Regions from separate parts of the Homo sapiens genome. Here region 1 is linked to region 2. The links come from fine-mapping of genetic effects on gene expression. A gene starts in region 2. The other region holds a variant in brackets. All regions are shown on one strand. Distances are from middle to middle. Region 1 overlaps PALS1 (protein associated with LIN7 1, MAGUK p55 family member). Region 2 holds the start of ATP6V1D (ATPase H+ transporting V1 subunit D).

Region 1 (10,614 bases), 26 kb before region 2:
TCCTCTTTTACTTGGTTGAGCAGTGGTTTGTAGTTCTCCTTGAAGAGGTCCTTCACATCCCTTGTAAGTTGGATTCCTAGGTATTTTATTCTCTTTGTAGCAATTGTGAATGGGAGTTCACTCATGATTTGGCTCTCTCTTTGTCTGTTATTGATGTATAGGAATGCTTGTGATTTCTGCACATTGATTTTGTATCCTGAGACTTTGCTGAAGTTGCTTATCAGCTTAAGGAGATTTTGGGCTGAGACGATGGAGTTTTCTACATGTACAATCATGTCATCTGCAAACAGGGATAATTCGACTTCCTCTTTTCCTAATTGAATACCCTTTATTTCTTTCTCCTGCCTGATTGCCCTGGCCAGAACTTCCAACACTGTGTTGAATAGGAGTGGTGAGAGAGGGCATCCCTGTCTTGCGCCAGTTTTCAAAGGGAATGCTTCCAGTTTTTGTCCATTCAGTATGATATTGGCTGTGGGTTTGTCATAAATAGCTCTTATTATTTTGAGATACGGCGGACGCATCACTTGAGGCCAGGAGTTCGAGACCAGCCTGGGCAACATAGTGAAATCCTGTCTCTACTAAAAATACAAAAAACATTAGCCAGGCATGGTGGTGCACGCCTGTGGTACTGGCTACTGAAGAGGCCGAGTTCGTGCTACTGCACTCCAGCCTGGGCAACACAGCAAGACTTGGTCTCAAAAATAAATAAATAAATAAATAAATAAATAAATAAATAAATAAATAGATATAGAAACTAAGAAGATGATGGTGTTACTCACTGGATGCAAAATGTAACCAACCAGTTATGTAATTGTACTCTGAATCTGTTCTTCTAGTATTGTGAAAGAATGGTATTGGCATAAAGATGTGATTTTTTTCTTGTATGTATTGTTAAAGTCACAGAAAATCATCTATATTGTGGTAAGAGAGAATATATGCCAGACAAATGCTCTGCTGTCTGTCAGAAAGAGGAATAAAGACACAATCTGGAACCAGGAAATAAATAATAATAATAATAATTATTATTATTATTATCAAAAGGAATAATCAGACACTTTAGCAAAAGAAATAAGTTGGAGGGCATTTGTCTTTATTGTCTCTTTTCTATTTAATTCATTTCTTTTTATGCTTTCTTTGACTATAATTTGCACTTGCTTTAGTTTCTCAAGATGAATGCTTAATTTTTAAACTCTTCTTTTCAAATGTAGGCATTTGAAATTATAAATTTCCCTCGAAACAGTTCTTTAGTTGCATCCCGTAAGTTTTGGCATTGTATTTTTGTTACCATTTTGTTAGAAGTATTTTCTAATTTCCCTTCATTTTTTTTTTTTTTTTTTTTGAGATGGGGTTTCGCTCTTGTTGCCCAGGCTGGAGTGCAGTGGCACTATCTCTGCTCACTGCAACCTCTGCCTCCCGGGTTCAAGCAATTCTCTTGCCTCAGCCTCCCGAGTAGCTGGGATTATAGGCATGCACCACCACGCCCAGCTAATTTTGTATTTTTAGTAGAGATGGGGTTTCTCCATGTTGGTCAGGCTGGTCCCAAACTCCCGACCTCAGGTGATCCACCTGCCTCAGCCTTCCAAAGTGCTGGGATTATGGGCCTGAGCCCCCGGCACCCCGCTTCCTTGTTTTTCTCTTTAACACATGAGTTATTTAGAAGTATGTTATATAGTTTCCACCTATTTGGAGATGTGAAAAAGATTTTAACTGATTTATAATTCCAGGTGGTCAGACCCTGAAAGATGTCAGTCTTTTCAAATTTGTTGAGCCTTATTTTATGGCCCAACATCTGTTCTTTCTTGGTGAATGTTCTGTGCACACCTGTTAGGATGTGTATTCCACAGTTTTTGGTGTAGAGGATGGTGTATCTGATTGTATTTATTCTACTTAAGTTTTTTTCTCCTGTGATATTTCTTTCTTTTTTTTGAGACAGAGTCTCACTCTGTCGCCCAGGCTGGAGTGCAGTGGCACAATCTTGGTTCACTGCAACCTCTGCTTCCTGGGTTTAAGTGATTCTCATGCCTCAGCCTCCCAAGTAGCTGGGATTACAGATGTGCACCATCACGCCTGGCTATTTTTTGTATTTTTAATAGAGACGGGGTTTTGCCCTGTTGGCCAGGCTGGTCTCAAGCTCCCGGCCCCATGTGATCCACCTACCTTGGCCTCCCAAAGTGCTGAGATTACAGGCGGGGGAGCCCCTGCGCTGGTATTGGTATTTCTAATAGTGCTTTATTACTCAATGATAGAAGTGCTGAAGTAAAACAGATTTTCAATTTTAACTCTATAAAATTGTGCTAAGAAAATGATGGCGTTACAAAATGTAACCAACCGGTTATCTAGTTGCATTCTGAATCTCTGAATCTGTTCTGCTAGTATGAAGGCTTGAGAGTGGCTATCTAGCAGTATGAACTTATTGTCAGTTTTGCCTAGTTCAGCTAAAAATTTTGAGCTAAAACATTTTGTTTCATCTTAGTCGTGGATTGTAATTTGAAAGAGAACTTCAGACATGAAGTACTAAATAAGTGATATAAGCCATTTTGGCACAAAATGGAATAACAATGCCTTAAATTTGATAAAAACTAGGTGGATTCGGGCTTTATCATTTTCATTTCAACTCCAATACCACAAAGTTTCAGTTCTCTGTGGAGTCCTAGAATGTTCTTCCAATAATCTTGAGCTTACGGTAGACATAAGTTTTAGCAAAAATGTCAGTGTGTTCAGTTACAGTGGTGAAGTAGATTCCCTGCTGGGAACAAAGGATTCTGTGTGCCATATTCAGATGTACAACATTCCAGAATGAGAGTCATGCAAGAAACTGCCTCAGGACAAGCCAGAGTTGTCATATTTTTAATATGTTTTCTTACTGTTACAGAAGTTCAAACAGTTGAATGATATAAATTGTTTTGTACTATGGGTCCAATATAGTATTGATGTGTGACTTTTATATCTGAGACATTTTGTCTTGAGTTTAAGTTAGTTGTCTTCATTGGCAGGGGTGATTTGAGGTGAGTTTCACTTTCTTGAACCCATGTGCCTGATAATTAGAGGGTTCAGGATAAGTTTTGCACATAGCCTTGCTGCCTGCTTATCTTTGTAAAATGGCCCTTTCCTTCAGTCAGTATTTTAAAGTAGGCTACTCTATATAGTTTCCCAAACTCTGGTAGGATACTTTTAACTCTCTGCAGCAGATAGTATAGGGCAAGGGCTCTTTACTAGAGCCAAAAGTAAATGGCATTTTAGGTCCTTGCTCCAACCAGAAAGGTTCACTCCATATTACAGATGTTACTATTAGGAAGAGGTTATAGTGTCTAGAATGTTTGAAAACAAATGTTTGTAGGGAAACAGTGTGTGTTCTTGAAGCTTGTAGTTTTGTTGGTGAGATAAGACAAAATATGTGAAAACCTAAATAGTGGTATAAAACAGGATATATTGAGTCCCAGATGGTTCATAATATGAGTCGTGAAGATGCCAAAGCAAAGGTAACCATTGTGGCCGTGACAGGGTTGGAAAGGAGCTCCTGAGGTTGGGAGAGACAGAAGGAAAGCTATGAAGGTCGCTCCTTGTTCTTTGGCCATCTCTGACTCATCCTATATTATTTGGTTAGGAAAGGAATTATCTCACAGTTTTTATCTTCTGTTTGCAGCCTGAAGAGTTGAGAGAAATCATTGAGAAGACAAGAGAGATGGAGCAGAACAATGGCCACTACTTTGATACGGCAATTGTGAATTCCGATCTTGATAAAGCCTATCAGGAATTGCTTAGGTTAATTAACAAACTTGATACTGAACCTCAGTGGGTACCATCCACTTGGCTGAGGTGAAAGAAACATCCATTCTGTGGCATGTTGGACTTGATCTGGCAAAAACTGCCAATAGGAGGACTGCCCGACACTGCAGCAAGATTGAGGATAAGATGGAAGGCAGCAGTATAAGCTGTAGATCTGTTCTTAGATCTCTTGAATTAGTGAGACGACAGTTCCCTTAGGCAGTTTGTGCATGGCATCCTTTATTCTCTATACATGGCTTTAGCGGTTCTTGCCTCATTTTGGGATTCTAAATGGAAGCTTTCAACAGAGCATTCCATTTTGTCCTGTTAAAACCTTTTGTTTTCACCTAAACCCTTTCTGCTTAGTTGTATCTCTGTGAAAAACTTGTATACACAAGCGTCCATGTCTCACACAAATATTGATGTGATTATTCTTAAGTGTTAAATCATTAACACTTAAATGACTTCATTGGGAATATTGAGCAGAGGGACTGTGCTTCTATGCACTGGGCAAGGCAGTATTTGCTTAGGAAACTAATTTAGTCATCAGAGATACTTTCCTAAAAAGGAAAAATAAAAAACAAAATGGTGCCACTTTGGGTTGAAGCTACTTTGTTAGGCTTGAATTCATTTATATGTCTTTTGATTCTTAAAAAAACAAAAAACATTCCATTAGAAGCACCAGTTTTTTTGCTCAGACTTTGTGGATCAGACTCTACACTCAACACACTCTAATCTACTTAAAGGTATACAAAATATGCTGATCTTTTTTAAATTATGATTTCCTGAATTTTTTTCTTAAGTCGTCTCAACTGATTTACTCACTTAGCTTCCCTTCCCTCATCAGCATAGTATAATAGAATGTATGTTACATTTTTATGAATGGCAGGTGTTCATTATAATCTGTATTGACTTAAAAAGTTTCTTCCTCATGATGCTAATAGTTTTTTGTATACATGGGAGGATAGCACATTTGACAGTTTTTGCATTTTTATGTATGAGCACAGTATCCTATGACTGTGCTACGTATATATAGGTAATAAACTGGAATTCTGTTGATGAATATAGCTGCTGTACTGTATATTAATATTTAATAGATCAACAAATGGTCATTGAAAACACTTGTTTAGCATTAGAATAAAATTATATATGTCCTTGGGAAATATTATGACAGTTGACTTTAAGATCAAAAGGAAGGGAAGACCTGAAAGTCATTTGAACATTTTAGGAAAAGAATATTGGAGAGAAAAAGGTATTAAATATATAGAAATAGGTTTTTAACCTAACAAGGTCTGCCTCTTATGACGAGAATGCAACAGCTTGGTAAATCATAAAAGAAACATTTAAGCTAATAGGATTTTCGTACTGTCTCTATAGCTGTAGCTTTAAAATTCAACGTATATAATTGGCATGGAAACTTAATTTGCAGTCTTTTCAAGCCTTTAGGATAGTGTGATGTGTAACAAACAACCTCAAATGTGAATGCCTTGATTTTATTTTTATGGTGACTTTAGCTACAGCATTTCCTATACCCAGAGCTAAACACTGGAATAATACTGACATCATTTAATTTAACATAAGCAATTATGTTTAAGGAGTAATTTGTGTCATGTACATATTTGATTGATTTTTTTTCTTCTACATAATTTTATTTGAACAAATGTAGACAGTTTATATGTCGCCTTTTTCTGTTCAAATTTGCATGGCCTATTAAGTTGGCTGGAGAGTGTTTTATGTGGAAATATTTTCAAGATAATGTTCCTTAGGAAGAAAATAACATTCTTGGGTTGAGGGAAGGAATGCCATACACTACTGTCTCTTCAGATCTGAAATACTCCAGTTTAGAGCCAGGAAATTTCACAGGTCACACCGATTTTTAGCATTAAAAACTAAGGAATATACTTAGCACTTACTTAATCTTTTCAGTTTTCCAGTTTACGTCTCAGGAATGAAGTGTAGTCTATGGTTGACAATGGAGTTTTGTGATCCTGCTTATTGTAACTGACAACTGTTTTCAACTCCAAGAGCTAAACTATTGGCAGTTCATGTTAAGTTAGAGTGAGGGTGTAGGTAGTGTCAGTGAGTGGCTCTTGTGCC[T/C]GCTGTAGACATTAGGCCTGCACTAGGGCCATGTGCTGTCAAGATTCAGGAACATGGCTTTAACAAGCAGATCTTGTATCAAGGCAGAGGTGATGCCATGCCATACTTTTAGGAAGTCTGAGATGATAAATATTTCAAGGTCAGTGAAGTCTATCAATCATTCTCCCCTTCCTCATCAGCAATGGTAGATAGAAATGTCCTAAACTTTTCTAAATCCTAGTGATGAGGATGTGCTGATATTCAACATAGTCCTTAAAGTGAAAACTGAGTTGTTGCTGACCTCCACAAAAGAATATGGAAAAAAGCCTTGCTGTACACCTAGTTGTACAGCCACTCTGGCCAATTCCATTTCCTGTCCCTCTGTGGTTCTGACTGGAGACCCCAGTGTGGGGGAGGTCTTACCATTTAATATAGAAATGATATCAATAACTAATGCTATGTACTTGGAAAATCCAAATAAGGAAGTTTTAGGTTGGTGCATAACTTTGTTTCTCAAATTTTCGTTGTCAGAACAAATGGAAGGAGAATATTATTTAGACTAATCCAGATTTGCTTTCTATGAAAATCTAATGTCTGGATTATCTTCCTTTTCTCATGGCCTAAGAAATAAGGATCAATAAGGAATGATTTGAATGTAATTTTGTGAATGTGTGGAAAATATAAAGCAGGGATTTAGCCTTAATAAAGGTAACCTTCTGACATCTGTTGTTAATCCCCCTTTGTACTCTTTTCCTGTATCTGCACTGTTATTTTGAGATGTCATACTGTACACTGTATTGTAAAAATAAAAAGTAAAATTATATTTCAAATTTTAAAAGCCACTAAGCAATTTCTCTTGCTATTTGCTCGGCCACTCAAGGTTTCCACACATGTAAAGACCACCCTCCTCTTCAAGTTTTTGCCAAAAGCAAGACCATTGGATCCTCCAGCTACAACACAAAATACTTTTTGATTTGTTCTTTACAGAGGGATAGTGCCCCCTGTTGGCACAGGTATAGGTAGGTCCTGTTTCCTTAATTATTAAAACCAACAACTAAGTGTATTAAAGATGGACAACGCAAGGCTGTGAACTTGAAAGTTTTCTGGAGAAGGAGGTATGTAATAATACTCAGGCAAATGGACCTTATGTGCAGCCTGGGATCTGAGGACACTGAGGCAGCATGTGAATTATTGGCAAATATATAACATATTTTGTTTCTCCAGTCTTCATTTCTCCTTTTTTTCTGCTGTACATCTCCCAAAGGTCATAAATCATACACCAACAAACAAAAAGTTTCTTACATATATACACCTGTCACCACAGTTCAGCTTTCCATTCCTATTCCTGATCTATATTCTTCTCCTATGTTTCAGATAACTGACTCCACACAACAAATTATGTGTCCATTGTTTTCTTGATTTCTTTTTAACAAATGCTAAACTATAAAGTCATCTGCACTTTTGTAAGTATTTTAACAAGGCCAATACATTCCAGGTATTTAAGAAGCCACAGGAGAAATCTAGGGTCCTTTGGCTTGTTGCTTTACATTGAATTTACCTACATGTGGAAAACCACTAATCTGGATCCCTACTTCAAACTAATTTTTGCCTCCTAGAAAGGCAGTACGTAATTCTTAAAATATAAAGATCAAATTAAATCAAATCATACTTGACTTGCATTCCAGCTGTGCTCTTTGACTTGTCAAAGTCTCAATTTCCTCATCTGCAAAGTGGAGATGGTAGAATTTACAGTTCAGCAGGCTGTTGGGAAGACGAAATGTTAAACAGTTACCTATTTTTAAAGTACTTGTGAACTGAGTTGTTGGTTTTCCAGTCATTACTGAATTTACACTGAACCTAAGATTTTATTCTGTGAGCAGCAACCAGATTTCCTAAATATCAGCTTCTCCAGAACAGTCCCAATGTCTTTAAATACCCAAAGTTTGAAATATAGATGAAACAGAAAGGAAAAGTTAGGGTGTAAAAATTCTGAAGGTAGACTGCTTAGACTTAAATTCTGGATTTGCTACTTTCTAGCTTTTTAACTTAAGACTACTCAAGTTTCCTGTGTCTCCAATTTTTCCTCTGTAAAATAGGGGGTTAAAATAATATGTGCCTCTTATGGTTGTTGTAATGAAGTAATATAAACAAAATACTTAATACCAGTGCCTGGCACATAACTAAGACCTGCTATCTTATAGGAGATGTTAAATGCTTGCAAAATCATTTAGTACTTTAAAACTGCCTAGACTGGCTGGGCATGGTGGCTTATGCCTGTAATCCCAGCACTTTGGGAGGCCGAGGCAGGCAGATTACTTGAGGTCAGGAGTTCAAGACCAGCCTGGCCAACATGGTGAAACCCCATCTCCACTAAAAATATAAACATTAGCCGGGCATGGTGGCGCAAACCTGTAATCCCAGCTACTCGGGAGACTGAAGCAGGAGAATCTCTTGAATTGAGGAGGCGGACGTTGCAGTGAACTGATGTTGCTGCCACTGCACTCTAGCCTGGGCTACAGAATGAGTGAGACTCTGTTTCAAAAAAAAAAAAAAGAAAGAAAAACTACCTGGACTGTGATGTCACTTGATTAAAATACAGTATTAATAAAGACAGTGTCACAATTTCAGAACTAAACATTATTCCATGGCTAATCATGTCAAAAATGCCTGGAAATGGATGCGAGAAAGACTGAGTCCCCATGGATGGCTCATGCCAAATCAAACAGTACTAAAAACCTCAGACACCTGATGTGGCCACTCAAATGCTTCATCTTCATATATGAAAGCAAGTTTTTATCACTTATAAATAGTAAAAAGTTACCTTATTTCTTACTCTAAAATAGGAACTAGTTATTTTCTTAATTAGCAAATAAGGAAGTATTATAATGCCCTCATAACTCATCGGCAATCATTTATTAGTACCCCAAAATGCAACAGTTGTCTCAAAAGTAAGCCTTTTTGTAAAACTCTAATACATGGAGTGGGAAAAATAGCTACCCACTTCCTACATGTCTGCAGAGAAAGCTCTGGCTGACACTACTGATCTGAGCATGAGAACATGACTTAACAGTAAATTAATAAAAACGGAATGACTTACTTTTAAATCATTTTACTGTTTATACCACAGTCGCATTTAAATTGGCAGAATGGCTCCCATGACAGACAAGACAGGAACCTGTCATGCAAGGAAAAGTGCAGGTTTTCACAAAGTTTGAGAAGTACCATGGTAACAAGAATGGCTGCAGCAATCTCAGACAACAGCGCCAAGGTTTGCAAGTGGGTAGGAATGAAAGCTGCTCCACAGTAATTGGCCTGAGACCGCTAATGCTTCCTAAGAGGTATTTCCTAATATGCTTGGTAAGCAGATCACGTGTAACACAGATGTAAATGGAGTATGATAACGCTTCTGCAAAGTAAATTCTGTAAGTTCCTGGGCAGGTTTTACAGATCTCTTTCATCCATGATAAATGGTTGCTAAATTATGATTCTGCAAAAGTAATCCCATAAATAGACATCTAGGTAAATTTTACAACCAGTGAAATTCTTAGGCCAAAAAATAAATAGCCACACAAATCAAACCTACACACTGTGAATTAAAATGAAGCCAGTGTTAGGGTTTCTCAAAGAACCAGAACAGGAAAGATTATTCAAATAGAAGATCCTCGTCCTTCTCTTCAGCCAGAAGATTAGCAGGCTCCAACACCTCTCCAGCTGCTCTCCTTTGCTCCAAGTCCTTCTCAGATTTTTCCTTTAGAATCTTTTTCTTCTCTTGTATTTTCTTTAACCTGTAAAATACAGGTGGGGGTGGATTTTTTAAACACTGTTTCAATATTAAGTAGATTTGATTTCTTTGAGTTTTGTAACAAGGATAATAAACACATACCTAGAAAAAAACCTGGTACTTTTATTAATTTCATTTTCAGTAATTTATTTATAATCCTTTTTAAAAAACATAATTTTAAGCTAAAAATACATAATTTTAAGCTAATAACTGATTTAACCTGAGACAGAAGCCTTTTTTTTTTTTTTTTTTTGAGATGGAGTCTTGCTCTGTCGCCCAGGGTGGAGTGCAGTGGCGCACGCAATCTTGGCTCACTACAACCTCCACCTTTGCGTTCAAGCAATTCCTTGCCTCAGCCTCCCGAGTAGCTGGGAATACAGGCGCATGCTGCCACACCTGGCTAATTTTTTGTATTTTTAGTAGAGACGGAGGGTTTCACCATCTTGGCCAGGCTGGTCTTGAACTCCTGACCTTGTGATCCACCCGCCTTGGCCTCCCAAAGTGCTGGGATTACAGGCATGAGCCACCGAGCCCAGCCTAGAAGCCTTTATTAGGTTAAATTTTGAAATCCATTCTCGAATGGAACAGATTTTGAGCATTCAGGCATTTTTTTAAAATTTTGGCTCAACACAACCCTGAGTATCATGGAAGGACAGAAACTAACCTTTGATAATTAAGATTATAGACCATAGTTAGATGCTAACTCCAGGTCTAAGACCCCCCATGCCTTTCCTAAATACTCCTGCCCTCACCTACCTCCCATTTCTCTGAACCGAGTATACAGATCCCTGTACACTACCAGTTTAGTATTTATACCTGTTGACTCTAAATGTTCATAACCAATTCATGGACATGCATAATTTCTCTCCAAGTGCTGTGCTAATTCTCTAATGGCGTGATTTATATACTATTTGGTAATGCCTCCAGGTGCTTTATACCTTCTCCTGAACATGAAATACATATTTGTTGAATAACAGCTGAATTCTAGTTTC
Region 2 (10,818 bases):
CTAGGTAACAAATGACATACGTAAGATTCCTGAGAAATGACAAGCTAAATTTACACTGAAGTCTCCTCACTTCCTTGTTTCAATTTTTTTCCCCATCAGAAGCCCCAATACCAAAGTCAAGCAGAAACTGACATTTCTGTTCTTGCTGCCATATGCCAGATACAATTTAATAATGAAAAAAGTGGAGCCCAGTTCGAGGATGTAGAAGTAAGACCCTGTCTCAAAAAAAAAAAAAAAAAAAAAAAAAAAAAAAGACTAGAAATAAAATGTCATACCATGCAGTAGTACATGCTACAATAAAATTAAAATAAGGAATTATGACAGAAGCAAACATGGTGTTCACTTTAGATTGGGTGATCAGGAACAGCCTCTCTTAAGAGACTAGAACAGCCAAAGGAGCCAGTTATAAGTTCCGGGGAAAGAGTATTTCAGGCAGGAAAAAGAGCTAATGAAAAGTACCTGGAGGACCTTAGGAAGAATGCTCTAAATAAGGTAAGTGGTACAGTGGCTTATGTCTATAATCAGCACTTTGGGAGGCTAAGGTGGGTAGATTGCTTGAGTTCAAGACCAGCCTGGGAAACAAGGTGAAACCCTGTCTCTACAAAAAAAAAAAAATATCAAAATTACCTGGGCATGGTAGGGCACACCGGTAATCCCATATACAAAGAAGGCTAAGGTGAGAGGACTGATTGAGCCCAGGAGGTTGAGGCAGTGAGCTGTGATCATGCCACTGCACTGCAGCCTGGACAACAGAGCAAGACTCGGTCTCAAAAAAACAAGTGTTTGGGTAATAAAATTCAACAATAAGGTTGTATAACCTAGACACAGTATAACCTAGACACAGTGATTTAAGGGGATATAATTTCATATGACTGGTGTTTTAAAATCGCATGTACTAATAAACTTTTTTGGCCAGGTGCAGTGGCTCACACCTGTAATACCAACACTTTGGGAGGCCGAGGCAGGTGGATAACTTGAGGTCAGGAGTTCGAGACCACCCTGGCCAACATAGTGAAACCCCATCTCTACCAAAAAATACAAAAATTAGCTGGGTATGGTGCTGCATCCCTGTGGTCCCAGCTACTCAGGAGTCTGAGGCACAAAAATCACTTGAACCTGGCAGGCAGAGGTTGCAGTGAGCCAAGATCGGGTCACTGCACTCCAGCCTGGGCAACAGAGGGAAAACCTGCCTCAAAAAAACAAAAACAAAAAAAAAAAAACAAAAACAAACAAACACCATTTGGCCAAATTCTTAAATTATACTGGAATCTTTTACCATAGGGCTAAGATCACTAAGACAATTCTATAGCTGAAAGGGACTTTAGACATTAACTTAAAGATTAGAAAAATGAGGCTTAGAAAAGTAAAACAACTTTCTCAAAGTTACTCAGTGAAGAAAAGGCAGGGCAGGGACTTGAACCAGACTTTTGATTCCACTGACTTTCCCAATGCTCAAACTAAGGCTCCAACCTACGTTCACTGTACCCCAAACATGTGCCTCCCCTTAAAGAGAACAATTATCACTGGCTGACTCTGCACTGACTGGTCTCACAAGAGGTCTTATCAAGTGAAGGTCGTTTAGTTTCCAGCCTGAGAAGGAGCTATCCATCTCAATGTGTGCATTTAACATAATGTATTGTTGATAGTAAATACTAGAACTTGGGCTCAAAGAGCTGGATCAAATTTAAGTCAAATTGTAGTACTGCATATTCCAGCCAGTTTATAGTAAAAGGTAAACTGGTTGATAAAATTGAATTTACCATGTTAATTTTATTTTCCTCCTAGGGAATGGCATCTTTGTGAAATGGGCAATTTTAATTCCTGAAACTCTAAGAGCAGCGTGCACACTTACAGCTAATATGTAGCAGAACCTGGATTTAGTGGACTTCTGTTGACTCCAAATTTTTCATGCGTCTTTTACTTCCACTCTACAATTGTTTTTGCTTTCTCTGGTACGAAAGTGGGTGAAAGTAACATCACAGAATAATACTGTTGAATGGAAATGTCTGTGAAACAAGCTGCCAGTATATTTTCTAGCCTATGGCTTTTAAAACTTGCTCCTTTACATGTTTCAGAGCTGCTCAGTCCTACTCAAAAAGTTTGACCTTTAGCTAGGATGATGACTTTTCTTCCAGCTGAATCAAAGACATCTGACTACATGACAAAAAGCCTGCTGCCAGCCATGGGGAAAATATTTAGAGAAGAGATTATTTCCTGCACCTGATTTTCCTCTCAATCAGCAAGCTGAGAGCTTTCAAATAGTAGTTTCACCTTCATGAGCCTATCATTTTCTTACCTAAGCCCAAAGATGTCTATTTTTGCCTCTTAGTCTCAAAGTAAAAGTTTCAAAGTAAAAACAAAAAAGTTATTCTGACTGCTGTCAAAGATAAACCCAGCCAGACATTCGTTAAAGTAGTGAAAACAGATTTTATTCAGTAAACCACTGATAGTAGGGGAAAGGGCTGAGCTCAATTCTCATTTGTGCAGAGGTGACTGGCCATTTTAAAAAAGAGAGTAAGGGAGTGGCAGGGAGCCAGCCGCAAGAAGAGTCAGAGAAGAGAAACCTTAAAGTGTTGGTCAGTGTAAACGCCATACTACCTGGCAATTAGTAAGTTACTATTCTATCCTCTCACACAGACTGGGAGACAAAGCCCCTATCCCTCCTGATGATTACGTTTCAAAGAAATGGCTCTCAAAGATACTTGAAGGGACACTTCAGAGTTGGAAGAGATACATATTAACAATTGTAAGCCTGTTTCGTAAATGCTCTAAAAAGGGAACGAGAGGGGTCTATCAATTAGGTGTTGACTAGAACAAACAGTAAATTCTCCCCCTAGCTTTGAGCTTTTTCAGGCAGGCATTTTAATGGCGGGGGCGGCGGGGGGCGGCCTGGGGTCACCCTAGGGGCAGGCCTTACATTGCTAGAAGATAAACTAGTGTCGATGTCTTTCAGTGCAGAAGTTTTGACTGAGTCATCACGTCCTAGGAGTTCTGCAGTTGTCACTACCTCGGGATAGTCCTCATCTTTATTTCCCCACAACTAGCTTGCTGCCTACTTAGTGCAAACAGCTATTAGAAAGTCAACAGGTGAAGGTAAAAAATTTAAAAACTTCATTTCATTAAGAGCTATTTAGTCACCGGGCAGAAAGAAATCTGGGCTTCAGGTTTGAATATAACTTTTATTTTAAGCATCCTCAGATTCTCTCAAAGGACAGAATGAGGAAAAACAACAAAACACCCCCACAGAGATAGGACCACAATAAAAGGGTCTAAATGTCAGGGTCAAAACTGATTTTCTGCTTCCTCACTGAAAAGAAAAAGGGAAAGCCAGGCGCGGTGGCTCCCATCTATAATCTCAGCCGCCAGGGAGGCTGAGGCCGGAGGATCACTTGAGCCCAGGGGTTTGAGGCTGCTGTGAGCTCTGATCATACCACTGCACCCCAGCCTGGGAGACCCTGTCTCTTATTAAAACAAACAAACAACAAACTAAATAAAAATAAACAGGATGAGGAGGAGAAAGGGAGCAAGTTGTTAGGCACATTTGAGAAAACGTCAAAATTTTCCTTACAAACTAGCCAAACACCTACAGTGATATGCCATTTTCCTGACAAAGAATTCAGGCCCCAAAAGAAAGGCAGCCCACAACTGAGCGTATTCCCAAGCATGAGTTCTTTCAAGAAATATTTTTTTGTGGACCTTCTATGGATTAAGACACTCTTTCATCCTGGAGAGAGCCCACAGTCTAGTGGGAGAGAAAGACACATAAACAAATATCTACTTTACAGCGTGATGACCGGTATTAACACAGGTCTGAACAAGGTGCAGCGGTGAGAGAGCAAAAGCAGTGCCTCAGAAACACAGGGATATCCTCTCACAGCAGGTGACATTTGGCGGGATCTTGGAAAATGAGTAAGGGGATCCAAGATCGAATCCGAGGGCTATGCTAGGGCGATTCGATTCCATCCCCACTTTGGCTTAGGGACCTCTTCTATATCCTCAGTAAACTTCCCTTCTCAGAGCATTTATTAAAACCTCCTTGGCCTTTCCAGACGAATGTCTGGCTACGTAAACTGTGAGCTCTGTAGGGCAGAGGTGGCGACGGTTCAGTTATATAAATCCAGTGCCCGGCTCAATAAGGGTATGTGGAATGGATGAATCCATTAATGAATAAAGACAGCAGACCTCCACAAAAGCCCGCCGGCCGGGCGCCTTTTCCTACCGGCTGGGATCGCTTCGTCCAGCCTGATTCACTCAGGAGGAATGCGCGAAGAGGCCGTCAGGAAGCCTCGCCCTAGACTCAAGAAAAGAACCTGGGAAAAGCTCAGGATCCTCCCAGGAAACAAGGACCCTCACTGTGGCCCAGGGTCTGAAGGGACCGCGCTCCGGGTTCCTAAACCTGTGAAAGCGGCTTATCCCATTCCTTTACTTACATTCGCGAGGGAAAGATTTCAATTCGGTCTTTGCCCGACATTCTGACGATAACTTTTCGGCTCGGGTCCCCGGCCGGGCAACCGAGGCTGCAATAGCTCCAGAACTGGCCTCCACAGTGTCTTCCTCTACGGGAGTCAGCTGGTTGTGTCACTTGACCCCTCTTGTTGCTAAGAGGCAGCAGGGACACCCATTTTCACTTCCGCTTCCGGTTGTCACAGGCGACGAAGGGGGAGGACAGAACAGAGGCGTTGCCCGGATGTCGAGGCGCGCGCACCGCGGAACCACCCCTCAATTCCGGTTCGCCTCCCAACCCCTCCCCATCCAGCTTCCCTGCGGCTGCGCAATACGCGGCACGCGCCAGGCCAAAGACTAGGAGCGAAGCGTGCACGCCTTGTCTTTCTCCACCTTTCGTCTTTGGTCACAGCGCCATCTCATGGTTAGCTGAAACTTTGAAAGAGGATTCATTCTTCAGAGGCAAGGAATCGGAGTCCTATGTCTTTCTCGCGCCTTGAAGGTTACTTAGCTAAAGCTAAGATAGCGAGAAACAGTACTTTTCAGGTCCTTCCATGATCTACATTCGTCCTTGTTCTCGGAGGACCCAGACTCTATGGTTAATGATGAAGAGGGGCCTCTATTCGTTCAGCGCTTGCGCATGCGAGGAGGTTCCGCATGCGCGGTGGAGTGAGCGAAGCGCACGCTGAGGAGGATCGGCGGCCGGTGAGGGGGAAGCAAGTCTGGTCTCTGTGATTGAAGAAGTCGGCTCTGGGCTCCAGTGCGGGAATCACACACATACCTCAGGTGACTAATCCCAAGCTCGGTTTCTCCAGGAACTCACTTTGGTTTGTGTCCAGTGACATGGGTGTTCGAGAGCGGGTAGGCCCCGGGCTAATACCTCCCTTTCCCGTCCCTGCGCGGGAAGTGGCTGGACAGCACCGCCACCACCCGCGCTGTCGTGGGCCTCCTCGCCGGCTCCGTGTAGGTCATCCTGTGTTCCAGAGGCATCGTTGTTCGAGCAGAGGAATCTCGTGAAGGAAAGTGGGCCGAGTGGATTGTACAGCCTCTACAATATGCCGAAAGTGAGAATGCCATGACGATGGGGCGGTCTCAGGAGAACGCTGTGACACCGTAACTCTTAACCCCGGCTCAGGACGCTGAGCACTTTGCTTTTTCCAGGCTTGAGAATTCCATCTTTTCTTCCGCCCCAACAGCTCTACCAAAAATTTCCCCTGCGTCTCAGTGGAAACCAAACTGGCCTCTTACCTGAGAAACCTGTGGGACGGGCACCGTGTTGGAAAGAGCGGGGTCCGAGTAGTTTTTCATCTGATAATTGAATGAGTCACCCCTTGAACCAAAACTAAATGAGACTTGAGTTTATTACTGTTACTATCAGTTTGTCGTATTTTGGCGACAATGAGAATAGAACTGTGTTAAGCATATGTTAGGTTAACTATGTTAGTTAAGCATAACTAAAACCTAAGATAAGGATATATTTTCGGGTTAAATACACAGTCATGCTGAGGTCTCTTTATCCTCAAAACTTAGGCTTTTTAAATTTTTATTAAGCAAAAAACATGGTTTCTTCGAGAAAAAGTATAGCAGAGAAGTCTTTATTTCCCCTCAATTGAGTTGTTATTCAAGGAACAATCTCTGTCAATAGTTTGGGGGTGACTTGTACAGAACTTTGCTACCTATTCTTAGTTCATCTGGTGCCAAAAGATGTAGTTGTCTCATGCACAGTAATGTTTGTAGAGATTCGGTGATAACTTTCTTTTTCAACTATAATGATGAAATAAAAGCTTTACTTATGTAGCACTCCTATACCAAGAACTAGCATTCAGAGAGCATTCCTAATACGTGTTAGATCCAAATTAGAATTATCACGAGAGTTGTCCCCATCACATAATATATTTTGGAAAGGAATGTGAACTTCTATATCCATTATAGCAGTTTGACCATGCACTGTTTTGAGAAAGAAGTCCTACCTACCATTTGTCATGCAAAATAACTGACTATGCAGGGTATTTGAAATTAGCCTGGAGTTTGGTTGATATATTTTGAAAGGTGGCTGATACTTTTTACATCAGAACACATAAGAGTATTATAGCATGTTGTGATATTGAGGTTCTGTGGGTTAAAGACATTCTGGATTTGATGTCGGATTACTTGAGTTTAGCTCCTACGCTAGTACTTATTAAGCATTTGTTCTTAAGGAAGTATTATAATTTAGTATTTCTGTTCCACCTTTCCTGTTCATTGCTTCACTGTGCCCTTTCATAGTACTTTGTATTGTAATTATTTGCTTGCTAGTTTGTTTCCCACTCTATACTTAATTACTTAGGTAAGAGTCTTTTTTTTTTTTCTTTTTTCTTTTTTCTTTTTTTTTTTGAGACAGAGTCTCTGTTGCCCAGGCTGGAGTGTAGTGGCACGATCTCAGCTCACTGTAGCCTCTGCCCCTGGGTTCAAGGGATTCTCCTGCCTCAGCCACTATAGTAGTGGGATTACAGGTGCCTGCCACCACACCCAGCTAATTTTGGTATTTTTAGTAGAAATGGGGTTTCACCATGTTGACCAGGCTGGCCTCGAACTCCTGGTTTCAAGTGATCCACCCGCCTCGGCCTCCCAAAGTGCTGGGATTACAGGTGTGAGCCACTGCGCCTGGCCTGGTAAGAGTCTTTCTTGTTGTATCATTAGTGCTTAGTACATAGTAGCTACTGAAAAAAAAATTAACAAATTATTATATTACAAAATGGAAATACCTTCTTTTTCTTTCAATATTTTATGTTTGACTAGCACATAATGGTTTTCAAAATGTTTTTACGTATACATGTGATACCCTCAGTAAACCTGTGATGTACATGGCACAGATGAGAAACTACAGTTCAAAGGATGTTATCTTTCCCAAGCAGCCACTTCTAGTAAGTAGCAGAGCAAGGACTGGAACACAAGGCTAGAGTTGTTCCCCGAGTTTACTATGTTAATTGCCTGATTTGACACTTCTTGAGGACCAAATAAAATAAGAATGCTGTGAAAAAGATAAAGAGGTGAAGTCACCTAGTGTGACTTCGATATTGCGGAATGATTTTTTTAAGTTAAAAAAAAAATTTAAGTTATTAGCATTTCATTAGGCAATATGTTCAAAAATTGTCAACCAATATGCAGGTTTTTGTGGTATGGATTCTTTTTGTACTTAACTACTATCTATCTTTACTATGAATAACATACCATCAACAGTATTCCTTTACTTACCCTTTATGTTGCAAAGAGACTTGTGCCTCCTGAAGAAATAGTATTCATAGTCATATCCCTTCAGGATTCTCTTACATGATTGCCCATGTTTTTTAACCATCAAATTAAGCCTTGCTTCCCCTAAAAGCATCACCTTTACTGTTTGGAGAAGCTTGGTAAGTAAATGTGGTTTTCACTGGTCAAATGTCTTGCAACTGTTCCATACATTTCTGTAACATAGTTTATTTTTATGCCCAATTTGAAACTTTTTAGCTCTCAAATTTGAGAGCTTTACATACACATATTCAACAACAGTTTCCCCACCCCCACCCTCGAAAAGCCCTGTTTAAAAACGAAACAAACAGTCAGCTGTTTCTTGGTGGGTAAGGCCATTGAATGTCTACTTCTCTTTATTTGCTAAATCCCTATTTTGTAGGGATTTTGTATTCCCTACAAAGAAATACATCTCTGCTACTGTCATTAATATGCTGCTCTTTGTTGTCAAACAGATGAGTACTAATAGTTTGCACTTATTGGTGTTATGTACTCTGGCACTGAATATATATTAATGTTGCTTTTTAAGTAAAATGTTTCTAATTATAATATATTTATGAATAGTTTTGAGAGAATATAGTCTTACTGATAAGAGGACAGACTCTGGATCCAGACTTCATGGATTCAAATCCTGACTCATCACCTGTTAGCAGTATGTGAAAGAACAAGTAACTTAACCTGTGCTTCAGTTTTTTAATCTATAAAATGGGGAGAACTAGGGAGAAAGTTGTACCACAAGGAGATAGGCAATGGCCAGATCATATAGGATTCTGTAGGTAGTGGAAAGATACATAAGTCAGTGGGAAGCCACTGAGAAGATATAGGCAGGTGCCAATTAATAAGTTATTATATGAATTTTCACAAGGTTTTCTTAGGCCTTTAAGTTCTGTTACTACCTACGTTTTGAGCAGTGACAACAGTGAAGGTTAACAGAAAAACATGAAAATCATCAGCCATGATTAGTTTGAGAGCTTCCTTTTTTAAATATGCTTCTACCCAGGCTATGATTTCAGGCTTGTGGATCATAAAAGGAGTAGTGCTGAAAGTAGGTTGGGTGGATCAAAGGGAATAATTGTAAATATCTTTAATGCTTGGAGGTTAAGAGAAACTTGAACTTTGTAGTAATGGAGATTAAAGCTATTCTCAAGATTAGGTATACCTATTCAATAAAAGAAAGGAATATTTGGGAGTATTGGGGATAAGAGAAGCTAGACATTGTGAATTCAAGGAAAAAGAATTATGAGAGGAGGATGCATTTTAGTTTATTTTGTGATTAAAATTTTTTTAGTTTTTGTTGTTTTGACATGTGACACTGTAATTTTGGCTATAATAAATGACAGAATGTATCATTTGGTATATTGGTTAGGGTTTAGGTAGAAAATTTTTTCCTTTATATAGTGAGTGGTAGCGTATACAATGTTTGCTCACTTCGGCAAAGAGTAGCTTTAGTTTTCTGATTAGTTATAATAGTGATGCTTCCCATCATTTGATATGCCTTAAAGTAGTATTTTACTCTTGAGGTATTCCTTTAATCCTTAGGTCTTGGAGTACTTTATAGATGGTCATTATTTTTTATGATTCCTCTGAAACTAAAGGCAGAGAATCACCCAAGCATTACAAAAATGTTGAGCAAAATAAAAATTAAAGCTTGGTTCCTGAACATTATCTGTTTTCTGGTACCACTTAAGAAGTTTCAAAGGATGAGAAGACTAAGACTAATAACTATTTTTTTCTTCATCTTTTCTTTCAGTGGCAGGATGTGGAAATTGATTTTTTTTTTATTTTCACCTTAACTGAATACTTACTTAATTCTTTTGTTTAAATTGCAGAATGCCGGGTCTAAGTTGTAGATTTTATCAACACAAATTTCCTGAGGTGGAAGATGTAGTGATGGTGAATGTCAGATCCATTGCTGAAATGGGGGCTTATGTCAGCTTGCTGGAATACAACAACATTGAAGGCATGATTCTTCTTAGTGAATTATCCAGAAGGCGTATCCGTTCTATCAACAAACTCATCCGAATTGGCAGGAATGAGTGTGTGGTTGTCATTAGGGTGGACAAAGAAAAAGGTAAGTGAGAAAAATATCTGTAATATAAATTTCAGATTTAAAATGGTTTATTTAAAAATACATTTTTTGTAAATTGCAAGCTGCAGCTTAAAAAAAAAAGCTCCTTTTATACTTAAACCTTTTACATACAAAGTTGTTAGAAAAGGATGCCAATTAGCTATCTAAGCAAGATCTCTTAATAGTAGTTTAATTAGTACATCCTAGGATTTTATGGATCAGATAACTTGAATTTTATTTCTAGTGTTTATCAGGATCTTGATAATTGACTCATGGTAACCAAACTTAGAGACAGGTAAGTCAGAGTACTAGTTCATTTACATTGGTAGGCCTGAATATGTTGGATGCCTTTTTCTTGATTTAAAGCTAAAATAGTAATGAGATCACTGGGTAAGCATGAAAATGGGGCAAATGGATTTTAGGGATCTTTTATATAAGCTTTGAAAAAGCAATATACTATGCGTGTATATACACACCTGAAATCCAACATTGTATATCTTGCTGGTAATTAGAATGTTTGCATCTACCAGATCTCGTGGTATCTTTCAGACAGTTTTGGATGAGCATTCATTTTTTACTTATTGGATGCCTTTTCTGGGCCCCATGTAAATCATCACCTTTGTGAATACTCTTTTTTTAAACATGGTGTACAATACCATTACGTAGGTTTTAGTTTCAGCCATCTTACTATAATTTGTTAGGTGTTAGTTTTAGGTCATTAGTTACCATCATGTCCGAAAGGCTTCATATCAGTCACCTTGATTCAACTTACCCTTCTGAATCTCCTCAGCCGTCTGGTTTACTGATACTTTCTCACTTCTGCAAGTGATTAATTTTATACATACTGACATTTTAATTTTTTTTATTATAGCCTTAGATGATACATAGATTTTGAGGATGTCTTATGCCTTAGGTAGTGACTGCTACTTAGCACATGGATTGTTTTAAATGTTTTGCTATGACTTAGCTATAGCCCCGCCCAAAATTATTAAACTACTTTGAGACTATTTGTTAAACTTAGGTAAGTCTTCACATCACTG

Evidence for each region. PIP is the estimated chance that this variant, and not a neighbour inherited with it, causes the effect.
Region 1: its variant is the best candidate, but not a certain one, in a credible set for the expression of ATP6V1D in lung (TOPMed, PIP 0.57).

Annotation. Positions count from the first base shown.
Region 1 is chr14:67,329,137-67,339,750 of GRCh38, forward strand. PALS1 (protein associated with LIN7 1, MAGUK p55 family member) reads left to right here. Exons shown (of 15, transcript NM_022474.4): 15 at 3,644-6,925. The coding sequence ends at 3,820. ATP6V1D (ATPase H+ transporting V1 subunit D) reads right to left here. Exons shown (of 9, transcript NM_015994.4): 9 at 8,736-9,626. The coding sequence ends at 9,485. It also overlaps a transcript of GPHN not described here. Among named protein-coding and RNA genes, the nearest start is that of ATP6V1D, 25 kb to the right of the region's middle. The variant T/C (reference allele first, on the strand shown) is at 5,863.
Region 2 is chr14:67,355,228-67,366,045 of GRCh38, forward strand. ATP6V1D (ATPase H+ transporting V1 subunit D) reads right to left here and starts at 4,577. Exons shown (of 9, transcript NM_015994.4): 1 at 4,431-4,577. The coding sequence starts at 4,471. EIF2S1 (eukaryotic translation initiation factor 2 subunit alpha) reads left to right here and starts at 5,101. Exons shown (of 8, transcript NM_004094.5): 1 at 5,101-5,229; 2 at 9,540-9,781. The coding sequence starts at 9,541. It also overlaps a transcript of GPHN not described here. RefSeq lists enhancers at 3,688-4,474, 4,317-4,536, 4,557-5,356.